7 separate regions of the Homo sapiens genome follow, and all the other regions are reported to be linked to region 1. The links are microRNA targets in miRTarBase. Many come from high-throughput screens and were not tested one by one. Region 1 holds a microRNA gene; each other region holds the end of a gene's coding sequence.
Evidence for each region. The annotated mature microRNA hsa-miR-497-5p reads CAGCAGCACACUGUGGUUUGU and lies in region 1 at 2,257-2,277, shown strand. An mRNA with a match to its seed (bases 2 to 7 or 8) in the 3' UTR can be bound and repressed. Matches are read on the target gene's strand: a 7mer-m8 pairs with bases 2 to 8, a 7mer-A1 pairs with bases 2 to 7 and ends in A, and an 8mer does both.

Region 2: the mRNA of CAMSAP1 is a reported target of hsa-miR-497-5p. Seed matches in the 3' UTR shown: 7mer-m8 at 1,137-1,143.
Region 3: the mRNA of ZNF691 is a reported target of hsa-miR-497-5p. Seed matches in the 3' UTR shown: 8mer at 604-611.
Region 4: miRTarBase lists FZD9 as a target of hsa-miR-497-5p. The part of its 3' UTR that is shown has no 7-base or 8-base seed match.
Region 5: the mRNA of SIDT2 is a reported target of hsa-miR-497-5p. Seed matches in the 3' UTR shown: 7mer-m8 at 717-723.
Region 6: the mRNA of ZNRF2 is a reported target of hsa-miR-497-5p. The part of its 3' UTR that is shown has no 7-base or 8-base seed match.
Region 7: miRTarBase lists RUBCN as a target of hsa-miR-497-5p. Seed matches in the 3' UTR shown: 7mer-m8 at 748-754.

Annotation. Positions count from the first base shown.
Region 1 is chr17:7,016,934-7,020,255 of GRCh38, reverse strand. MIR497 (microRNA 497) reads left to right here and starts at 2,234; the gene lies at 2,234-2,345. It overlaps BACC1 (BPTF associated chromatin complex component 1), which reads right to left. Exons shown (of 6, transcript NM_174893.4): 5 at 3,242-3,322; 6 at 2,736-2,995. The coding sequence ends at 2,991. It overlaps RNASEK-C17orf49 (RNASEK-C17orf49 readthrough), which reads right to left. Exons shown (of 8, transcript NR_037717.1): 7 at 3,242-3,322; 8 at 2,732-2,995. MIR497HG (mir-497-195 cluster host gene) reads left to right here and starts at 602. Exons shown (of 3, transcript NR_038310.1): 1 at 602-878; 2 at 2,868-3,187. It also overlaps MIR195. RefSeq lists enhancers at 1,528-1,697, 3,049-3,322.
Region 2 is chr9:135,808,827-135,811,826 of GRCh38, reverse strand. CAMSAP1 (calmodulin regulated spectrin associated protein 1) reads left to right here. Exons shown (of 17, transcript NM_015447.4): 17 at 216-3,000. The coding sequence ends at 518. Among named protein-coding and RNA genes, the nearest start is that of CAMSAP1, 97 kb to the left of the region's middle.
Region 3 is chr1:42,851,286-42,854,607 of GRCh38, forward strand. ZNF691 (zinc finger protein 691) reads left to right here. Exons shown (of 4, transcript NM_001242739.2): 4 at 1-1,192. The coding sequence ends at 528. Among named protein-coding and RNA genes, the nearest start is that of ZNF691, 6.3 kb to the left of the region's middle.
Region 4 is chr7:73,435,280-73,438,601 of GRCh38, reverse strand. It overlaps FZD9 (frizzled class receptor 9), which reads right to left. Exons shown (of 1, transcript NM_003508.3): 1 at 2,482-3,322. The coding sequence ends at 2,819. Among named protein-coding and RNA genes, the nearest start is that of FZD9, 3.2 kb to the right of the region's middle. RefSeq lists a silencer at 2,889-3,183.
Region 5 is chr11:117,195,592-117,198,913 of GRCh38, forward strand. SIDT2 (SID1 transmembrane family member 2) reads left to right here. Exons shown (of 26, transcript NM_001040455.2): 25 at 211-324; 26 at 413-1,851. The coding sequence ends at 475. It overlaps LOC100652768 (a long non-coding RNA gene), which reads right to left. Exons shown (of 8, transcript NR_045215.1): 3 at 3,146-3,197; 4 at 2,728-2,845; 5 at 2,195-2,316; 6 at 1,639-1,813; 7 at 1,417-1,555; 8 at 22-443. Among named protein-coding and RNA genes, the nearest start is that of TAGLN, 2.1 kb to the right of the region's middle. RefSeq lists enhancers at 504-1,003, 2,336-2,999 and a silencer at 2,402-2,696.
Region 6 is chr7:30,362,103-30,365,424 of GRCh38, forward strand. ZNRF2 (zinc and ring finger 2) reads left to right here. Exons shown (of 5, transcript NM_147128.4): 4 at 275-354. The coding sequence ends at 332. Among named protein-coding and RNA genes, the nearest start is that of LINC01176, 27 kb to the right of the region's middle.
Region 7 is chr3:197,672,018-197,675,339 of GRCh38, reverse strand. It overlaps RUBCN (rubicon autophagy regulator), which reads left to right. Exons shown (of 20, transcript NM_014687.4): 20 at 144-3,322. The coding sequence ends at 322. MIR922 (microRNA 922) reads left to right here and starts at 764; the gene lies at 764-844.

The sequences.
Region 1 (3,322 bases):
GGTTCCCCACGGCAGCCGGGGCTACAGGGTAAGCCAGGCCAGCTCTTCGCGCCTGGGTCCCTTCTCTCTTCGGCCCTCCTCCCCTCTCTCCCTCCCACCGCCCACCCCCCCAACCCAAGAAAAAAAACTGCCTGTGCAACAGCAATGGCAGATTCCAATCCTCCAGGCTTTCCTAAACCACCACGGTGACCAGCCAGGGGGGAGGGGAAGGGAGGAACGGGCTTTCCTGCTTCCTTAAGACAGGGGCAATGAGCTTGACCTCCTGGCCCCTAGCCCTTTGAGGAGTGATTCCCCCCGGTCTGGAAGCCAGGTGTCCTGGACCCTAGCCCCCGAGCGGTGGGGGGGGCCTGGAGAGACGGGGAGGAGGAAGGAGGGAGTGACTTCCAAAATTGGCATCGGGACAGAGCAGGGCTGGCGGGAGGCAGGCAAAAGACGGAATTTTCCTGAAAAAACGGGGGTATCTGAGGACCCCAAATTTGGGGAGCTAGTCCAGGACCGTCCTCCCAACATCCTAGATTTTTTTGGGATTTTTTGGGGACCCCGGGACCCCTCTAGATGGGGTGAGGAATGTAGTGTTGGGTGAATCTGACTGGGGCATTGCAGCTGCCTCTCCCGCCGAGTTGGAGACGGATGGGCTGGGACGGGTTTTGGGGGGGTGTCCCCAATTCTGACTGGGAGTGGAGGAACCCCTCCTGAGATCTCTTGTGGGGGTGCCCCCTCCCCAGGGCACTCCCCAGTCCCTGAGCCAGCCGAGAGGAAGGAGGCCAGCGATGCGACTGGGGCGGCTCCTTTCTCCTGCACCCCAAATGTGAGGGATGCACCCTAAATTTTGCTCTTTTCAAAATAGGGGACCAGGATCTCAGGGGAGAGTAGCTGAGGTAAGTGGGGAGGGAAGTGTCCTCTGTTTTCAGGAGAGACGTGGCGGTTGGGGGGGAGGTTTGGAGGTGCGTGCTGGGGTGGGGTTGGCTTTGTCAGTCTTGGAATTGGGGGGATGATTGGAGAGGCTTTCTCTTATACCCCTAAACTGCAGCCCCCCAGACGGAAACCAAAGGCTGAGACCAGAGAGCCCCCCAACATCCCCAGCCGTTAGGATAGTGTTTAATTTCTCTTTCACCCCCCACAAAGGCTCTGCCGAGGTAGGAGCTGGGGGCAACTGTTAGTTTGGGGGCTATGGAGGGTGGTGGAGGAGCAGGAGGCCTTGGCAAGATTTGATGGAGGGCAGATAGGGGTGTCCGGGAGGGGTCTGGCATCTTCGGGGGCCTAAAAAGACTGCTTACATACACCACCTTGGATCTTTCAGATTGCTAAGAGTTTTGGGGGGTGTGTCGGAAGAGGGGGTGGTAAAAGATGCGATGGGATATAGGAAGATAACTTCTGGATTTTAGGGGGTCATATTTTGATTTGCAAAAGGAGTTTTGGCCCTTGGATTTTGCTTTCTGAGGGGTGTTTTTAAAAAATCAAGTCCTGGACAGGAGAAAAGGGCTGAGGGAAGGCCTGGAGTTGGGGGTGGGGAGAGGCATGTTTGTCTCAGCTTAAACGTGGCTCTCTGGGGTGGGCCCGCCTGCCCTGGCCTGGTGGATGGGCTGATGGAGGTTGCTGTGGGGGCCGGCTCGGGTCCTCAGGGGCCCTGGGGAGTGGGAACAGCACTGGGGGTTGAATACCTGGCCCCCCAGGTCCAGATGGCCCTCTTCCTGGGCTCTGCTGCTCCCCTTCCCCCTGGTCTCCATTTCCTGCCTTTGGCCTCCATCTTGTGGCAGGCCCAGGGCCCAGGGCGACTTCCGGCCCCCCTCTCCCAACCATGTTCCGGCCCCACCACCTCTGGACTGCCAACTCCCAACCCTGCTGGCCTTGGCCCTCTGTCTCTCCTTGCTTTTCTCTTGGGTTCTGACCCAGGGAGAGGAAGGACGGACACAGGAAGCCTTGGGTCCCTGCCCTTGCTGAGACAGGAGGCAGTGTGTTGGCCCCTCCAGTCATTCCCTATTTCTTCTGCCTCTGACCCCACCCTAGGGATCCCCTGAGCTGAGTTCCTACAGAGGGAAGATGGTCCAATCTTACTACACTGTGAGCTCATCCCCATGGTCCGTCGCCTTCCAGTTGCCTGCTCAGCCCGTCCCTGGTTCCTCCCAAACGTTTTTGGGGGCCATGTTTGCCTTTTAAGGCTTCTCTATCCCCCCGCTCCTGGAGGTGGTGCTGGGGTCTTCCCAGCACTGCTATGTGCTCTCTTCCTTTCAACCCACCCCGGTCCTGCTCCCGCCCCAGCAGCACACTGTGGTTTGTACGGCACTGTGGCCACGTCCAAACCACACTGTGGTGTTAGAGCGAGGGTGGGGGAGGCACCGCCGAGGCTTGGCCCTGGGAGGCCATCCTGGAGAAGTGACACAAAAAACATCTGGGGCCTTGTGACAAACTTCTTGCCAGGTGGGCAAGGAGAGGGTGGGGTATGTAAGCACCCCTCTAAAATCTCCAGGGCAGTTTCAAGAATACTGATGGCCAGAGACCCTGGGAGTAAGTTCTGCCTCAAGAGAACAAAGTGGAGTCTTTGTTGCCCACACCCAGCTTCCCTGGCTCTAGCAGCACAGAAATATTGGCACAGGGAAGCGAGTCTGCCAATATTGGCTGTGCTGCTCCAGGCAGGGTGGTGAAAACTACCGAGGAGGGGCTGAGCCCCCATGGGCCGAGGAGAGAAGAGGGAACAGGCCTCTCCTGCTAATAATGTTAAGCAGACAGCACGAAGCTGAGAGGGAAATCTTTATTGTTTTCTGTATAAAAATGTCCATCAGATGAAGGTCAAAGGGGTTGGGGGCAGATGCTTATGCGGGAATAGCGAGGTGGCAGCCCCAGCAGCCTTTCAGCCCTCTCTCGTGCAGGCCTTGCTCGGAGTCCCAGGAGATCCACAGGTCCGGCATGAACAGTGAGAGGTCAGAGGTGGAAGGCTCAGCAGGAGAGGAGAGGAGGATCAGCAGAGGTCATGAGAAGGCCAGAATCCAGGGTCAGGCTGTCTGGAACAGGAAGTAAAATGGGCCGAGATGGAGCGAGCCCCCAGTGTGCTTCCAAGGCCACTCCCACCTCCCTGAAACACCCTGCTACGTACTGATCCAATGCCCTGCGCTGTGTATGAGAGCACCTTCTCTTCTGAAACCCCTATACAAGGGAGGGGCCCCTGCGGAGACCGTGCCCTGCCATCCAGGTGAGCCCTTTCTCCCCAACCCCGTCAGCTGTGTGGGAGGAGGAGGACTCCTACCCTGGTCGAAGTTGAGTTTCTTAGCTGGAGGAGTTTCTCCTAGCCCTTCAATATCCACCACGTCACTGTTGGCATCGGAGT
Region 2 (3,000 bases), not on the chromosome of region 1:
CCTTGCTTGCTTAGACTTCTTAAGTAAAGTCTCAATGGCATATAATGCTCCCGTACAGGGGTCTGCTGTAATTGTTTACAACAGGCAGGCCGTAGCTGACGGGTGGGAGAGCTTCCCACGGAGCGGTGCTGGTTGAGCCGCTGTGGGAGCCCAACTCGTGGCAATTGGAGTGGCCCTGAAGTGTTTGTCTCTTCCCCTTTTCTCTCTCTGCACAGGAGCTGGAGAAGTGTGATGCCAATCACTACATCATACTGTTTCGTGATGCTGGCTGCCAGTTCAGGGCGCTTTACTGCTACTATCCTGATACTGAGGAAATCTACAAACTCACTGGCACGGGGCCAAAGAACATCACCAAGAAAATGATCGACAAACTGTATAAATACAGCTCAGACCGAAAACAGTTTAACTTGATCCCAGCCAAAACCATGTCTGTCAGTGTGGACGCACTCACAATCCACAACCACCTGTGGCAGCCCAAGCGGCCTGCAGTGCCAAAGAAGGCCCAGACTCGTAAATGACCCCGGTGCAGCTGGCGTCCAAAGGGTGACCCAGACTCGTAAATGATGCCCTTGTGGCTGGCATCCAGAGGGTGCCACGGGGTCCTTATTTATTGTTTTCATCTATTTGGGTACGAAGTGTGCAAAGTCACAGACCTTTTGCAAAGAGGTTTCTAGACAGCAGAAGAAAACCCCTCTCTCAGCGCTCATCTCACGCAGAGGATGCCAGGCAGGGTGAGGATGGGGGAGTAGATGCCGCTTTTGCAGTGGCTCGCACTGCTGTGGCCACTGCTGACCACTGAGGCTCCCAGCGGAGGGTGTTCACAGCCAGGTCCCGGGCCACGGAGCTCCCTTACTTGAAGTTCTCCTTCAGCATAGATTAGACGTGATCCACTTTGCTTTCTTGCTTCTCACCTCGCCCCCTTGCACATTGCCTGACACCCTCATATTGGCCAGCTGTAATCTCGTGACTATGGGACTGAGGCTCAATCTTGGCTTGGGGTGTTTGAATGTCTATAGCAAAGGAATTCATAATGGGAAATCTTTTTCATTTGAGAAATTGTATGATATTTATTGGTTGTGTCTACTGCCAACATTTATATCCAATTCTAAGATTTCTGAAAAAAAATTCTTATCCCTTGCTGCTCAGAAAAAGTTTACGGAAAACACCAGTTCACTAAAAGCACCGAAATCTGCAAAGCCTGTCTTCCGCTAGAACAACGTCTACAAATGTGAAGATGATGACTTCTGGCACGCGGTCATGAGGGTGGGGAATGGCACTAGGAGCTGATGTTTGCCTCATTTAAAGTAGGCAAGCCGAGCCAACTGCAGCCATCATTCATTAAGTTTTGGGTAGTGCTCTAATGGTTTGTTCACTTTAATAAAGACAGATTTTGGTAAAGTAGAATATTTTTCATTCTGAGCATGTTTGTCCCAAAAGGTGATGCACTTAAGCTGACAGTCCCTTCAGTGGTTTTGTTAGGTCACGGCTTGTCCTGTCTGGATTCTGCATCTGGAAGCGCTGCATGCTCTCAGAGGAGCGTGCCGTTTCCCCTGTAGATGGATACTTTTGTTTTGTTGCCTATTTAAAAACAATTAAGTGGTTATTTGCAGTTATTTCAGAACTCCAAGTAAGTGGATGGCTTTGGGTTCTTTCTGCCTTGGTCCCAATGGTGTTGATGCTTCTGTGGAGCGCGGACATTCCCAGGAGCAGGTGCGTGCCAGCCATGGCTGCCAGACACTGCTGCAACTGACCAGCTGCCGGAAGATTCTGGAGCCACTAACATTAGTTTTGCACATATTTTCTTGGGAGTGTTACTTGAATCTATCTCAAACTGCAGAAAAAATCAAAAGATCAATAATTGGGAGAAAAAGAGACAAATTTAACTGTTACATAATTTTAGATAGACAAAAAACATGAGTGAGTCGTGTACATAAGGAGGGAACATGGTACAGAAGGCTAGAAGGAATTATAGGTCTTATTCCCCTTTCCTCAGTCCTTTGAAGAGAAGTACAGTCTCTTGCGATTTTGTATATATCGTGTTCGACACAGCCGCTCTCTGTCCTGTAAATAGGGAACTAAAGGCTGTATGATTTCTCAAGTGCTGAGTTACACAGTCCTGAGTGAGCTTTCTGTTACCATACTTTCACACGTGGGCTTTATTTCTCACTGTATGTTTGATATGATATTACTGTATTTATTTTAAGAAAGCACTAAGATGTAATAAAGTGATGAACTAATTTGCTTTACATTGAATCGTATGTGTGAGGTTGCTGTGGCTCATTTCGCTGACCAGGCGACACCAACTCCTTGCTTTATAGGAGTTTCACATTGTTCTTTACCATGGCCCTATCGAAGTCAGTGGAATTGGATTCTTTTTAATGAAGAGCTAGAAAATATCTGGCATAGAGCTGGAAAATTGCATTCCCATGGGACGTCTGAATCAATTCTGGATTTTCTCCATGGAATGAGTCAGTGTGTGGAACATCCTGAAACTTGTCCTTAAGCGTGTAGTTTTCACTGTTCGTTGCGAGTAAGCACTAATGTGGCATGGACATTCCTGATGTCCCAAGTCCCCAGGCCAGTGTTCGCCTAATGATTGACAGAAGCGTCCCTGCGTTCTTCATGCTTGGACACAGCAACCCTTTTAATTAGTCTTGAAAAGTTTCAGACACAGGATTAATTTTCGTGGTGGTGCTTTTGGGCCTTTCTGGCTTGGGTGGTGGTAAAGTCATGATTTTGCAGTTGATAACACTGACTTATAACTCTGTTTATCAATGTCTCCTATATTCAAAGCCCCTGCAGTGGTATTTGTGTCTCGTTGCAAATTTCTTTCAGCGGAAAGCTTGCACAACTTTCGTTGTGTCTCAGAATTCTAACCTTGTTATTTAAGACAAGCTGCTCTACCCATTTAGGATATAACTTTGTAAAGAAAGTGTAAACCAAATGATTCAATGTATGATGAAGTTTATGTGTAAATCCTTGGTAATGCTAGAATTCTGG
Region 3 (3,322 bases), not on the chromosome of region 1:
AAGCCTTACAAGTGTTCTGAATGTGGCAAGAGCTTCTCGAGAAGCTCCAACCGCATCCGGCACGAGCGGATCCACCTGGAAGAGAAACACTACAAATGCCCCAAGTGCCAGGAGAGCTTTCGGCGGCGCTCAGACCTCACCACGCACCAGCAAGATCACCTAGGCAAGCGGCCATACCGCTGTGACATCTGTGGCAAGAGCTTCAGCCAGAGTGCCACGCTAGCTGTGCATCACCGGACCCACCTGGAGCCAGCACCCTACATCTGCTGTGAGTGTGGGAAGAGCTTCAGCAACAGCTCCAGCTTTGGCGTGCATCACCGCACCCACACAGGTGAGAGACCTTATGAGTGCACTGAGTGTGGGCGGACCTTCAGCGATATCTCCAACTTTGGAGCACACCAGCGGACCCACAGAGGGGAGAAGCCCTACCGGTGCACTGTGTGTGGGAAACACTTCTCCCGGAGCTCGAATCTCATCCGCCACCAGAAAACTCACTTGGGCGAACAGGCTGGGAAAGATTCCAGCTGAAGGAGAGCCCCATTTAGAGTGAGGGAGAGAGAGTGAGAGACCCTAACCTATTGGAGGAAGATCTTCAGCATCTTTTGCTGCTACCTTGACCTCAAGCCCTTCATCCCACTTTGGAGAATGGTTTTGTATAGCCTCTGAAGTCAGGATCTCAGGAAGTCCTGAGGAGGGACTCTGGAATAAAAACCCTTGCCTCTTTCCAGGCCAATTTCTCGTGTTGGAAAGTCAGAAGACCCAGTCTTGGCTTTACTTTCTTGGGGTGAAAGAGAAATAGGGTAGGCTCAGAACATGCTCATGTTATTAAGGCAGCAGTCCCCCTGGCCTTTGAGGAAGTACTTATGAGATGGGTGTCACTGTCTGAAGGTTCTCCAAATTGTCTGTGAACTGCTTAGGTAGGAGTGCACTGCAGTTTCCTGCTAGTTCCCACCTGTTGTGCCCCAACTTTGCTTCTAGATCTCTGGGGTGGGAGGAGTGACCTTCTCAATGGAAGGGGCCTCCTTGGTCTGGAGAAGAGATCTGAGGTCCCACCTTAGAAATGAAAGGGAAACCCTCAGGGAGCCATGACCCAGGGACCTTCACACTCCCCCATGTTTGTTACTTGTTATCCCTCCCCCAACCTGCCTCTGTTTTCCCCAGAGTGATTAGCAGTAAAACCCTTCAATGAAAAGGACCCGTGTACTTATTTGGGGAAGTGGGGAGCTGGGGAGATTGTCCCACTGAACCCACTCTGGAAGGGATTTGAATTCTAAGAAAGACAGATGGGTAGATGCTCTGAAAAGCAAAGGAAAGCAGACTGAGTTTCTGGGGCCTTTGAGGAGAAGGGGGAAAGGAAAGGAACTAACATTAATTGAGCATCCACTACATGCGATTAATTCTGTCAGTCACATTTACATTCATTATCTCATGTAGTTCTCACAGCAACTCTCAAAGGAATAAGAAGAGGACATGAAAGTGAGGGAAGATAAAGTCACTTGCTGTGAAGTCATACAGCAAGTACGTTGTGGAGCAGAGTTCAAACTTGGGCCTCCCTGACTGCCAGCTGTTGCTCTTTTCACTACATTTACCTTTTGGCTTCTGAAGGAGGAGCCACTTAGGAGACTTGCCTGGAGTTAGGAGCCAGTGTGGCCTCTTCATATGGCCTTGGGCCATTTGCTCTATGGCAAGTCAGTGCCAAGCATGAGAACGTTTTCAACTTTATTTTATTTTGAGGTCAACTTTATTTTATTTTGAGACAGGATCTTGCTCTGTCGCCCAGGCTGGAGTGCAGTGGTGTGATCACAGCTCACTGCAGCCTTGATCTCCTGGGCTCAAGTAATCCTCCCACCTCAGTGTATGGAGTAGCTGGGACTGCAGGTGCACACCACCACACCTGGCCTCAATGTTATTGATTGAGCACTTACTCTGTGCCAAGGAAAAACGGCAGTGACGGGGAGTACAGGGTGAAGGGTGGGATAAGGTGAGAGAAATCTTAAAACCCATAATGAGAGTCTTTGCTTTTAGTAGCAATAGTTTAGTCCTCAAGGCTGGAACAGCTTAGCAGGGATTATGTCTGGTTTCCTGTCCTCCTGGTTTAGGCCTGGCTCCACATGGCAGATTTCAGTGTTTTCTACATGGAAGTTTAGTGTTCACCCAGTTTTCCTCTAACAAATACAAAAGAACCCTTCCTCTAACAAATACAAAAGACCCCTATCTACCTCTCTTGTGAATCTGGGGCCCTACTCTTCCAGAGTGAGGGGCCCTCTTCATTTGTAGCCAGTTGGCAGAGTGTGATTCTGGCACCGGGCTTGGAACTGACATCACCCATAACCTTACCTAACATGGGGACCCTGCCGTTCACCAGTAAGAGATGTGCCAGGAACTTTACACTCATTATTGAATTCTCACAGCAACTAAGAGTGACTTGCATTTGCCGTATGTAGAAATAGGCTGATAAAGAAAGGGACTTGCCCAAGGTTACAGAGCAAGTAAATGCGGGGTGTAGGACCTGAACTACTGCCCAAATTCAAGTCCTGTATTTTATCCAACTATAAAAGACTTCCCAAATGATTCATTTATATTTATAGGGTACTTTACTGTTTACCAAGCACTTTTATTTCATACACATTTTCTGATTCCTTGAAAATCTCCACACAATATATTTTAAACATAGTCACCCAAACTTGTGTGTGTGAGTTGGCACACACCCTAATAATAAAAATCACCATCTTTTAAATACCTACTAAGTGCCAATTATTGTACAACTCTTATCTCTAGTCTTCATACTATCCTGTAAGGTAGTAATGTCCCCATGTTCAAGGCAAGAAAATTCTGTGAGATTAAATAACCAGACCTATTGGCAGAGTGGAGACTTAATTCAGGTATGTCTGATCCCAAGGTCAAGCTCTTCATTATACCCACTATCAAGCTAGGTCTACAGATCCCCTCTCAGTCTGGGAAGCTTAGTCTGACTCCTTCCTGACTTGGAGACTTTGTGACAACCACTGTGATTTTTTTTTTTTTTTTTTTTTTTTTTTGAGACAGAGTTTCATTCTTGTTGCCCAGGATAGAATGCAACGGCGGGATCTCGGCTCACTGCAACCTCCACCTCCCAGGTTCAAACGATTCTCCTGCCTCAGCCTCCCGAGTAGCTGGGATTACAGGCATGTGCCACCATGCTCGGCTAATTTTGTATTTTTAGTAGAGACGGGGTTTCTCTATGTTGGACAGGCTGGTCTCAAACTCCCGACCTCAGGTGATCCACCCGTCTCGGCCTTCCAAAGTGCTGGGATTACAGGCGTGAGCCACTGTGCTGAGCCCC
Region 4 (3,322 bases), not on the chromosome of region 1:
GGTTTCCGAGGTATTTTTGTTTGGCCCTGGAGGGTTCTTTAATGGGCGTGGGGAGAGGTCTGGCAGTGGTAGGGGTGTTTGTCTCCTCCCCACCCGCTTTGCCCAGCTTCTGGGGACATAAACTTGCCAAGGCATACACCCTGCCTTTCCCCACCAGGACCTAATCGGATCCCTGGTGTGGAACGCACAAAAGTTCTGGAGGCAGACTTGGGTTCAACTCCCAGCTTGGCCTCAAACTGCGTGGCTATGTGCTGTAGCGGCCAACCAATCTAAACACTTCCCGTCCGAAACGTGAGGCGAGCAGATCACATGAGAGGGCTGTGTTTCCTTTTTCCCTTTCCTCCAGGGCCTAGGACTTATTTCCATAGCATCTTCCAGGTCTGAGAAAGCTGGCAGGGCCCTGCCCTCCCTCCCAGGTCCTGGCCTCAAAGCACAGCCCCCGGGGCCTGTCCTGACCCTGCACTGCCCCTCTCTGCGCTCCCATCTGGGCTGCCCTGAAAACCAGCAGCAGGCTGGTGTCTGCTGAGCAGGACATGGTCACTGACAGCAAGGAAGAAAGAAGGGGCAGGTGGGTGCCCTTGGATGCTCATCCTCCCCCTGCCTTTCCCACACCCCGCCTGCCTTGCTCTTCCCAAGTCTGTGGAATCCTCTCCATTCGCTCCAGCTGCCCCCGCCCTGGTATAGGCCCTTCCCATCTTCCCTTCCACTGCCTGTGAGCCCAGCTCCCTGAAGCCTCTGCCCCTCCCACGCCCAGTGTGGGCACTTTACTGCCTCTAACGAGCTCATTCTGTTTCCCACTCAAAGACCCTCGCATGGCCAGGTGCAGTGGCTCAAGCCTATAATCCCAGCACTTTGGGAAGCCAAGGTGGGTGGATCACTTGAGGCCAGGAGTTCAAGACCAGCCTGGGTAACATGGTGAAACCCCGTCTCTACAAAAAAATACAAAAATGAGCCAGGCATGGTGGCGGATGCCACCCAGGCGGCTGAGGCAGGAGAATTGCTTGAACCTGGGAGGCAGAGATTGCAGTGAGCTGAGATCGTGCCACTGCACTCCAGTCTGGGCAACAGAGTGAGACTCTGCCTTAAATTAAAAACAAAAACAAACAAAAAACAAACAAAAAACCCTCGTGCAGCATTACAAGGAGGTAGGGTCACTTGGCTTTGTTGGTCAGAGGCACATGGGGACTTACTTAATGTGTGCTCTGCGCAAAGGGAAGGATTTAGATGGAGAGGGCGTTCCCCGTGCAATAAACGGCCTAAGAACAGGTGCAAGGGCTGTAAGCTTCCCTGGGGCACCACTGCGCCTTGTGGTGAGGAATACCCCTTAACCCCCTCAGCCTGCCATGGTCTTGTCTCCTGGGAGCGTGACCCAACCTGTTTGATTCTCACTGGACTTTTCTTGTCCCTGTAGGATTGGTGGTTGGGGTAGGGCACAGGGCTCCAGCCCGAGAGGCCCTAGGTTTGGGGCTCCGCCTCACCATTCATCCTCAGCACCTGAGCGTCTCCCCTCCTGGAGCCTCCCCGTGGCTCTAAAGTGAGGCTGGCAGCAGGGCTGGACCGCTGGGATCTCCTGGCACTGACACCAAATGCCGGCCGTGTATAGTAGGCACCCAGGGACACTAGTAACTAATACTCTCACCTGGCTGGAGTCACAGCAGCCAAGATGGGGCCCTGGGGTCTGACCCCAAGCCAATAGGGGTCTCCAGATGGCCACACGTGCCCAGCTACCCAGTCCGCAGAAACAGGACAGGCCCTAGCAGCCCTAAGCTACCCCAGCACACAGATGGACATGGGACCTTTCCCCATACCTGCCCCAGTGTGGAGCTCTGCACAGCCACCTGAGCTGCCTCATTCCCACCGCTGCCATTAGCAACTCAAATCTGACAAGCTTAGGAGCTAGGGGCCCAATTCCCACTCTACTCAAGGGCTTCCCAGCTCCACGTGCATGTCTGTGCTACCCAGAGGCCCACAGACCAGAACAACCTCTTCACCCCACCTGGAGACGCCAGGGAGCAGGCTGGGGCTGCCCTGGTGGGGGCTGCCCTGGTGGGGGCCCCGAGGAGCCAGGCAGACGCACCAGCAATTTTCCAAGGCCCCAGGGAGGCGGTCCTCGTGACAACATTGACACAGGCTGACACCTTTACTTTCCACGCCAATAAGGAGAGCAAGTTCCCAGAGAAGGAAAACTCATCCATAGCCTCAAACTGGACTCCCTGGGGCCAGAGGTGGCAGTGTCACCCTGGGGAATTCCCTGAACATCCGCAGGCGTCCCTGTCTCCATTTGGAAGCACAGAGACGGGCGGGAGGGGAAAACACGCACACATGGTGTCTGGGACTCCTGCAATGCACAGCTGTTCCGGGGGGACTTCCTCCTGATTGGGGGGTGCCAGCACCCACTGCCAGCTCTGCTTACAAGAAAGACTCCTGCAGGGCCCTCACCCTCCTACCTTCCCCCCTTCCCAGCCAGAGAGGACTCAGCAGTGCCACGCGGGGGTTTATTCCAGTCACAGCTTCCAGAGGAACGCAACAATAAATTACATCATTAAATAAACTCCGGCTGGACCCCTCTGCCCCGCCCCTCCACATCCTCCACTAGGACCCTGTGGGGACTCAGCCTGGTCCAGCCCCCGCATTAGGGGAGACCCCCATCTCCCCTAATGAGCCTCACGGGGTCCCGCCCTGATCCTCAGTCCCCGGTGCTCACTTGCCTGACCTTGACAGCTGGGCAGCTGCTAGTCAGCTGTCTCTAGGGGATGCAGGGGGCAGGGCGTGGAGGGCAAGGAGGGGGCAGCAGCCACCCCGCGCCAGGCCTGTGTGGCTAGAGGTGTGTGGGGTTCTCCAAAGAGGGGTCCGTCTTAGTCATGTGCAAGACCACGGTGGGAGCCTTATAGTGGCAGTGCGTGCCACGTCCGTAGCTCCCGGGGGCGCGGCAGGCCTTGGCCCGGGCCCGGCCAGCTGCTATCTTGCGGTAGCACAGGCTCTGCCAGGTCTGGAAAGTCTTGGAGCTCCACACCCAGACGCCGCTGGTGATCCCCACCACCAGTGACATGAAAATTTTGAGCATGAAGACCGCCACGGTGGGCACCGAGCCCCCTGGCAGCGAGCAGTCCCTCCGGCCTCCGGGCCCCGCGGCCGCTGCGCATGGCTGCTCTGTGGCCCGAAGGCGCCAGAAGTCCATGTTGAGGCGTTCGTAGACATAGCAAACGATGACGCAGGTGGCGGGCACCGTGTAGAGGATGGAGAAGACCCCGATCTTGACCATGAGCTTCTCCAGCTTCTCTGTGTTGGTGCCGCCCGTCTTCATGATCTTGCGGATGTGGAA
Region 5 (3,322 bases), not on the chromosome of region 1:
AGAAGCCAGTGAACTCAGGGAGAAGTTTGTAACCAAAGGCCATTTGTTAGATCGGGAAGGGGTAGGGACAAGGACAAGGGACAGGTCAGAATTGCTGCTGTCCTGCCTGGGGCTGGAGAGAGGGGTGCCCAGGAGCAAGATGGCAGATGGGTCTGGCCCTTGCCCTGCCAGAGCAGGGTCATTCGGCAGTTTTTCTTGTTGCTCCCCAAGAAAACCCCTGCAGAGTCGAGGGAGCACAACCGGGACTGCATCCTCCTCGACTTCTTTGACGACCACGACATCTGGCACTTCCTCTCCTCCATCGCCATGTTCGGGTCCTTCCTGGTAAGCGGGCCTCCCGGCCGAGCCGGGTGGGTACGTGAAGGTAGCAGCTGCCTCCTTCTCTGTGGCTGATCTGGCGTCCACACCCCAGGTGTTGCTGACACTGGATGACGACCTGGATACTGTGCAGCGGGACAAGATCTATGTCTTCTAGCAGGAGCTGGGCCCTTCGCTTCACCTCAAGGGGCCCTGAGCTCCTTTGTGTCATAGACCGGTCACTCTGTCGTGCTGTGGGGATGAGTCCCAGCACCGCTGCCCAGCACTGGATGGCAGCAGGACAGCCAGGTCTAGCTTAGGCTTGGCCTGGGACAGCCATGGGGTGGCATGGAACCTTGCAGCTGCCCTCTGCCGAGGAGCAGGCCTGCTCCCCTGGAACCCCCAGATGTTGGCCAAATTGCTGCTTTCTTCTCAGTGTTGGGGCCTTCCATGGGCCCCTGTCCTTTGGCTCTCCATTTGTCCCTTTGCAAGAGGAAGGATGGAAGGGACACCCTCCCCATTTCATGCCTTGCATTTTGCCCGTCCTCCTCCCCACAATGCCCCAGCCTGGGACCTAAGGCCTCTTTTTCCTCCCATACTCCCACTCCAGGGCCTAGTCTGGGGCCTGAATCTCTGTCCTGTATCAGGGCCCCAGTTCTCTTTGGGCTGTCCCTGGCTGCCATCACTGCCCATTCCAGTCAGCCAGGATGGATGGGGGTATGAGATTTTGGGGGTTGGCCAGCTGGTGCCAGACTTTTGGTGCTAAGGCCTGCAAGGGGCCTGGGGCAGTGCGTATTCTCTTCCCTCTGACCTGTGCTCAGGGCTGGCTCTTTAGCAATGCGCTCAGCCCAATTTGAGAACCGCCTTCTGATTCAAGAGGCTGAATTCAGAGGTCACCTCTTCATCCCATCAGCTCCCAGACTGATGCCAGCACCAGGACTGGAGGGAGAAGCGCCTCACCCCTTCCCTTCCTTCTTTCCAGGCCCTTAGTCTTGCCAAACCCCAGCTGGTGGCCTTTCAGTGCCATTGACACTGCCCAAGAATGTCCAGGGGCAAAGGAGGGATGATACAGAGTTCAGCCCGTTCTGCCTCCACAGCTGTGGGCACCCCAGTGCCTACCTTAGAAAGGGGCTTCAGGAAGGGATGTGCTGTTTCCCTCTACGTGCCCAGTCCTAGCCTCGCTCTAGGACCCAGGGCTGGCTTCTAAGTTTCCGTCCAGTCTTCAGGCAAGTTCTGTGTTAGTCATGCACACACATACCTATGAAACCTTGGAGTTTACAAAGAATTGCCCCAGCTCTGGGCACCCTGGCCACCCTGGTCCTTGGATCCCCTTCGTCCCACCTGGTCCACCCCAGATGCTGAGGATGGGGGAGCTCAGGCGGGGCCTCTGCTTTGGGGATGGGAATGTGTTTTTCTCCCAAACTTGTTTTTATAGCTCTGCTTGAAGGGCTGGGAGATGAGGTGGGTCTGGATCTTTTCTCAGAGCGTCTCCATGCTATGGTTGCATTTCCGTTTTCTATGAATGAATTTGCATTCAATAAACAACCAGACTCAGTTCTTGGGGCCCTTGTTTGCACTCCCTCTGGGTGGAGCTGTTGAGGATGAGGGGAGAGGCGGAGGTCTTCCATTTCCCCATTCTTCAAGCCATGGCCCTACTGGGAACTGCAATTCCTTGATTCTCCCGTTTTTCCTGTCCCTCCAGCAACAGCATTAATTCAGTAAACATTTACCGGGGCACTGTGCTGGACAGAGGCCAGTTCCTGGAAAAGCCTTTCCCACGCCATCCCACTGCAGACATCCCTCCTTACCTCCCCAGGAACAGCAGTCTCTGCCCACCTGGCCCCGCCCACCAGACTGAGGCTCACTTCACCTCTGACCTGAGCGGCCCCCAGCTCACCAAGCCACAGGCCCAAGCAGTGCTCCCTGATGCGGCGTTTATAATCCGCTCAGCGTGCAGGCCGAGGCAGGAGGGTGATGAAAGCTGGGCAGGCTCCAAGAGGAGGGAGTTTTGATATGTCCCTGAAAGATTCATTTAGACTTCAGTCGGCTAAGGAGGACATGATTTGGGGGCCAAGGAATCTGTTGAATTCAGAACACAACCAGAGGTCTGCAGGGTCAGGGATGGAGGAGTGGGCTTTCCCCTCGCCAGGGCCCACTCCTCTTCCTGCTTTTCCTGCAGGCGCCACTGGGAGGTGCTATGGCTGTGCCTCCCCTGGGCTCTGGAGCATGTCCAGTTGCAGTGGGCAGAACTGCGGAGGCGGGCCCCTCCTCTGCCAGGCCTGGCAGCCCCCTCCTAGGGCCTTGTTTGGCTAGGGGTGGTGCCGGGTGTGGCAGTGTGTGTGTAGTGGAGAGTGTTAGGTCTTCCCTACCAGATGCCCTTGCAGGGGAGTGCCACAGCAGTCAGTCCAGGGATCCCACTGTTAGTCTCACCTTTTTTAACCTCTTATCTCTCCCCAAGATCCCTGAAGCCAGGTACGAGCAAGATGAGAGTGGGTTATCTCTGGAGTGACAGAGGCTGGTCTGTTTTCCAGGCTGGTAGGGACTGTTCCTAAAGGGAGGAAGGGATGATACCAGCCTCCTGAGCCTCCTTCTCCTGCGTTAGTGTCTCAGGCCCTGCCAGGCCTTATAGACCCTCTTATTGACACTGCCCACTGGATGGGGACCGGAGTTGGACTCAGCTTCTGCCGAACCCTCAAATCCCAGCCCCAACTAAAGCATATAACTCAAGACCTACCTGCACTGAAAGCTCTTCTCAACCTGAGCAGGGTGGTCCAATTGAAAGGGTGGGTCTGACCACCTCTCCTGCACCCATGCGGGTTGGCAGAGGTGTGCAGGATCTGCCACTTACCATTCACCATGTGGCCTTGAGGAAGACGCACTCGGGGCCTCAGTTTCCTCATCTATAAAATGGGGATGTAATTACACCCTCACACTGTAGCTGTGAGTATTCAATGAGAGCACTGCAAAGGGCCTGGTGTGGAGTAGGTCCTCAGGAAAGGTTGGATCCCATGTCCCATCAGAGCTA
Region 6 (3,322 bases), not on the chromosome of region 1:
TGGTAAAGTGGTAGTTCAGATTATCTTTTGGAAGTAGTTCTGTTTGAACTTTAAAGTACTTTATAGCATAATTTTGCAAAGGTTTTTTTCTTAATCGCTTAGAATCAAAATATAATAAACATTCTTATCTGTTGCTTATGTATGCCAAATATAATTTAAAATGCTCATTTTTTTCTGTAAAAAATATATTAAAGTCAAGTATTTTTACTGTGGCTCTCATTATATAAATAATTAGTATAAGTATCTCAATTTTTCTGGTTTTGTTCCTTTCTAGCTGCATAGATGAATGGTTTGAAGTAAATAGATCTTGCCCTGAGCACCCTTCAGATTAAGCGTCAGCTTCCTGTTTTATAGGTAATTTTTTTTGTAATTACTTTTTAAAGCGTTAGCCCAAATTATACATTCTAAACTATAATTTTTATTTATTCATTTACTCATTGAGGTGCATGAGTGTGTATGTGTATGTTTCAGACACTTAGGCTACTGCATAGAAAACTTACATTAAAAATATTGTATAATTCTAATTGTTGGCTGGGTATGCTGGCTCGCGCCTGTAATCCCAGCACTTTGGGAGGCCTCAGGCAGGTGGATCACTTGAGGCCAAAAGTTCAAGACCAGCCTGGCCAACATGGTGAAACTCTGTCTCTACTAAAAATACAAAAATTAGCCAGGCTTGGTGGTGCACACCTGTAATCCGAGCTACTCGGGAGGCTGAGGTACAAGAATCACTTGAGGCTGGGCATGGTGGCTCACACCTGTAATCCCAGCACTTTGGGAAGCCGAGGCGGGCGGGTCACGAGGTCAGGAGATTGAGACCATCCCTGGCTAACACGGTGAAACCCCGTCTCTACTGAAAATACAAAAAAAAATTAGCCAGGCCTGGTGGCGGGTGCCTGTAGTCCCAGCTGCTTGGGAGGCTGAGGCAGGAGAATGGTGTGAACCCAGGAGGTGGAGTTGGCGGTGAGCTGAGATCGTGCCACTGCACTCTAGCCTGGGCGACAGAGCGAGTCTCCTTCTCAAAAAAAACAAAAAACAAAAGAGAATCACTTGAACCCAGGAAGTGGAGGTTGCAGTGAGCCGAGATCATGCCACTGCACTCCAGCCTGGGTGACAGAGCAAGACTGTCTCAAAAACAACCAAACCAAAAAATAATAATTCTAATCATTTAGTATTATCATGTGCCAGGTGTTGTTGTAAGCATTTTACATCTATTAGTAACTTGTCTAATTGTTACAATAACCGTTTTGAGCTCAGTACCATTACTGTTCCTATTACGCAGATGAAGAAATTAAGTATAGAGAGGTTAAGAAACTTGACTTTTCAAGTTCAGATAACTAGTTTGTTGGTGGGGATGAAATTTGAACCCAGGTATTCTGGTTCCAAAGACTGTTCTTAGCAATTTTGCTCTTTTTAGGTAGGAACATTTTCTTCAAACAGTCGCATCATAAATTTATTCATTCAATTTAATCATTCACTTTTATATCTTTAGCATGTAATACAGTGCCTGTCTATATAGTAGGCAAAAAATAAAGTTGCATTTTACGACTGAAAAAAAAACTAGTTTTGTTCTACTGATTTAAGTTTTTCATGGTTCTGCATTATCTGAAAATGTTTAGTGAATTGAATGCTGACCTCAATTGGGTATTTTCATAGGGCTTTTTTTTTTCACATTTCACAAGTGCATTAAATTGACATCATTTAGCTTTGAAAAAATAAAGGTTAACTTAATTGCTATCTTCAAATATATGAAAAGCTTTTATGAAAAGACTTGGAGAGATGATATAAAGCATTGGATTGTTATATCAAGGCAGAGCATTTTAGCTAATCCTAGAATTGTTTCAGGAGTGAGAGTCTCTTTGTTCAGGGACTCAAGACAGTAACAGCCGGCTTTTCTAGGAGGCTGAGACTGATGGCAAGGAACTAGACCAGATGACGTCCAGAGGTCTAGTCCTGTGTGGTACCATTTCCTTTTATTTCAATAACTTCTCTTAAATTTGAGAATAAAAGTGTTGAGGTAATAAACACCCTCAAGGAATTCTGTTGCTGTATTGGTGGAAGATGATTTAAGAGTAGCAGATTAGAATATTGACAGAGAAGATTTGAGATAATAGCAGCAATAGCACCTGAAATGAGAACTGCAGTTGAGTGTCATAAGACTACGCATGTGCATGTGAAATGTGGAAGCCTTGGTAGACTGCAGAGTACTAAAAGACTGCCAATTTTAACCTTTCCTGTGAACTTACTTAGATCATGCCTTGACACATTTAAAATATGAATTGAGGCTGAACACTAATTGCTTGAGATAAGGAGTTTGAGGCTGCAGTGAGCTATGAACACACCAGTGCACTCCTGCCTGGGTGACTTAGCAAGTCCCTGTCTAAATAAATAAATAAATAAAATGTGAATGGAAGTAAGAATGCTAGGTAAGAGAAGTATAGTGGTGGAGTGGTATTTTGAATATATGTGCACATATGTTTTTATTTCACCATAGAAAAGGTTTGGAATGCCTTCATTGTCACCTTATGTTTGAGACAAAACGAAACTGTGGCTAAAATTATAGAAGCATTTTAAGGGAAGTACTGAAACTGATGCTAACAAAATGAAATTTTTGTCTTAGTATTTTACATGCCAAAGTAATACATCTAAATCCTTCATCTATAGATAAAATTTGTCTTTTTAGTCTTTCTTAGTGCATTTTGGGCTGCTATAACAAAATACCTTAGATGAGTAATTTATACATGACAGAAATTTAGTGCTCACAGTTCTGGAAGCTGGGAAGTCTAAGATCAAGGTTCCAGCCAGTAGATCTGGTGTCTGATGAGGGCTCATTGCTCATTTATGGCACCTTCTGTGTGTCCTCACGTGGTGGGATAACAGACTCCCTCAAGCTTCTATAAGGATACTAACTGCATTCATGTGGTCAGAGCCCTCATCACCTAATCATGTCCCAAAGGCCCCACCTCTTAATACTATAGCACTGCAGATTAGGTTTTAACATAGCAATTTTGGGAGTACACAAACATTTAGACCATAGAGCTGATAAGCTTTTTTTTTTTTTTTTTTTTTTTTTGGTGAGGTGGAATTATATTGTATAAATTTTTTTTCTTTCATCAGCTAAATTTTTCCTTTAGTGTCACAGTGAGCTTATGGGATATGTGGAGCATACATCTCATCTCATAGCTGAAATGCATATGTCTGTTGGTCTTCAACAACATTTCCATTTTCTTATGTTACATATGAGTGTTATATTTGCTTATTTGTTTGTTTTCGAATATAGAACCTGAATTTGAAACTAGCCTACTACATGGGCAGGGTGAACTCT
Region 7 (3,322 bases), not on the chromosome of region 1:
TTCGGTGCCACTCAGCACCTCGCGGGGCCTCCCCAGGGGACACCACGCCTTGGTGGCGAGAAGGGGCTGTGGCAGCAACTGACCTCTAGCTGGAGATAATACAAATTGTTTTCTTCTCTCCCCCACCTTCCCAACCTGAGTAGAGTGTAAAGCGTGTTACCATAAAGCCTGCTTCAAGTCTGGAAGCTGTCCGCGCTGCGAGCGGCTGCAGGCCCGGCGGGAGGCACTGGCCAGGCAGAGCCTGGAGTCTTACCTGTCAGACTACGAGGAGGAGCCCGCGGAAGCGCTGGCCCTGGAAGCCGCCGTCCTGGAGGCCACCTGAAGAAAGCACGTGCAGCCCTCCCTCCGGGCCGGGTCACACCTGTTGCAGAACTGAGCCACTCTTTGAAGGACTCGCCCCACCTGGGGCTTCTTTTTTTTTTTTTTTTTTTAATTATCATCATCTTTTTTTTTTTTTTTACTGACTTGTCTGACGTCTGTGTGCAGTCAGCCGTCGGCAGGTTGATGGGTCCAGAGTCTGTGGTGACAGATAATTTGTAAACACCAGGTGTTTCCATCAGAACTGACATGCGGGTCCTTCAGTGAAGCTTCTAGTGCCTCTGTCAGTGGAAGAGACAGCAAGACCAAGTTCTTCCAGCGTCTGTGGCCTTCTCCTCTAGGTTTCACCTGCATGTCAGGTATCATTTCCAATTTTCCTTTGTTTCAGTTCTGGAGCTTCTGAGCCAGGCCTTTCTCAACCACCTCTCCTGCTGCTGAAACGGGGATGGCGTTTTCCCTCTCCCTGTCCTGGACTGGGGTCAGACTGTGCCCCGAGGAGAAGCAGCAGAGAATAGGACTACGTCATGGGCATTTCGTCCACTTATTTGGGTATTTTGGGGGCCACAGAACAATCCTGACTATCCTAGACTCCTCAGAGACCTCAGAGGCAGCTGTGAATGTCCCTATGTTGCCGGGAGTTCCTGTTTGAAATATTTGAAGCATAGAGGATGCCACAAGCTGACTTTCTTCATCTACCTTGGTGATCTTGAAGCAAAGAACAGAACTGATGCTCAGGCCAGGCTCACCTGTAGCCTTACGCCGCAAGCATACGTGAGGCGCCAGCTCTGTCGCTGAAGGAGCGCTTACTCAGAGGAGCGGTCGGCCCCCTCTTGGTGTTAAGGTCTCTTAGTTAACCTGGCTTTTTGGTGCAGGTGTGATCTTTGAAGCTCAGGCAGGTCCCTGATGCCATCCTAAGGTGAGGACAGGAACCTCACCCACCATCTTCTTAGCGTGTCCCTGATGACTCTGTCCTCTGTTAGATGGTCGTTGTGCTTCTGAGTAAAAGTACAACCCGACTCCGTTCTCTCCCCTTCCTGCAGCAGAGCTGGGTCCTTCCCTGGTGGCCGAGTCTCTCTTGCCTTAGCTTCTTTGGTCAAAGTTGGAGAAAAGCTTCCTGCTATTAGTGCTGTTACAGAACTTGACGGTTTGTGGATGTGAGTGTGAATGTCCCTGTGTTCTTGGGATAACAAGAGCCTTTATGCCAATTATGCACTTAACTCTGTGTAGCCTGGTAATGTTTATCTGTTCATTTGATAATGCTGATTTTAGTGTGCTGCCCCCCTCCCCCCGTTAATGTGTGTTGATGGTGAAGTCCTTTTGATAATGCTGATTTTGGTGTGCTGCCTCCCCCTTCCCCCCCGTTAATGTGTGTGTTGACAGTGAAGTCCTTGGGTGGGGCCATGTGTGTGTTTGTGATGTTCCTTAAGTTGATGCAGCTTCTAACCTCTGTGAAAACACTGGTCAGAGTGGCTTCTCCAAGAGCTGGCAGCTCTGTGAACTAAAGCCTGCATCATTTTTGTTCTGGGATTGAATTCTGCCCATGGGCATGTCTTCTCATAGTTGCTTGCTGGTAGGAAAGAAATGGGCGTGGGTGCTGCCCTGGAAGCTGAGCGGAAAGTTGCCTGTGGTTGGTGGAAGCTGATGAGAGCTTGAGCTGGCGGTAAGAAGGAGTCTCCCAGGGAAGTGGGAGAGGCATTAAGGTGATGGCCAGGGCTGAGGCTCCACCAGCGTGAGAGGGAACATGTGGGAACTGGCCCCTGCCCTTGATTCCTCTGCCTCAAAGTTGGGATCTGAAAGCCATGTAGGGCTAGAAGACCCTGAGGCTGTTCTCCCTTCTGTTCATAGTGAGACTCAAAAAGCCAAGTCCCAGAAGTTCTGAAGGGCTGTGACTAGAAGTGCCCAGGTCCTTCAGGGAGCTTTAAGAATGACCCCACAGAACTCAAGTTTAACTAGGGGTTAGGTCCCAGATTCAGACCCAGGAGTTTATAAAAATGAGCTCTACTTCCAGTTTTGGTTTAAATTACACATCCAGGCCAGGCACAGTGGCTCACACCTGTAATCCCAGCACTTTGGGAGGCCAGTGCGGGCGGATCATGAGGTCAGGAGTTTGAGACCAGCCTGGCCAATGTGGTGAAACCCTGTCTCTTCCAAAAATACAAAAATTAGCTGGGCGTGGTGGCACACGCCTGTAATCCCAGCTACTTGGGAGGCTGAGGCAGGAGAATCGCTTGAACCTGGGAGGCAGAGGTTGCAGTGAGCCGAGATTGCGCCACCGCACTCCAGCCTGGGTGACAGAGTGAGACTCCGTCTCAAAAAACAAAAAGGTGACACATCCAGCTCTTTCTCCAGGTCACTGCGCTGGAGGACAGATGTGCCGTCTTGTCCTGCCTGTTTCACATCAGCATAGGATCAAAGGATGACAATGCTGACAGCTTCTGAAGCCGAACTCAACAGTCTCATAGGCTCCTCACTTGTCACTTATTTTTCCCTAGCTCCCTCAACCGCACCCCATCCCTTTAGATCGTGCGTCTGTTTTAGTGACTCTGACACGATGCCGTCCTCACCTTCCAAATACCCAGTTATTTATTCAAGAGGGGGGAAGTGGGTAGAGGATGGGATGTTTTGGAAGCACTTTGCAAGTTACCACTATCTGAAAATCCCCTGCTGTTGCGGGGAGAAGCTTTGAATGCACTGAAGAGAATTCCTTCTAAATGAAGGCAGGTGATAGTGTTCTTTCTGTAAGTAAAGGGAAAGAAAAAAAACATAGTTTGCTTACCAGGTGGAGACAAGATTCAAGACATAGCAGAAGAGTGGAAGACAAATATTTTCCACTTAAATGAGGCTGTTTTTGACGTTCTCTGCCAAGGATTTAGAGCTTTCGTTGAACTAACATAAAAGGAGTGCGAGTCTTAGTAGAGATGTTCCGTGTGTGCCGCCCGTGCTCTGAACTGCGTTTCCACCTGCTGTGGTGCTTGTGCAGCCTGGCAGTTCATTGTCATCTTTA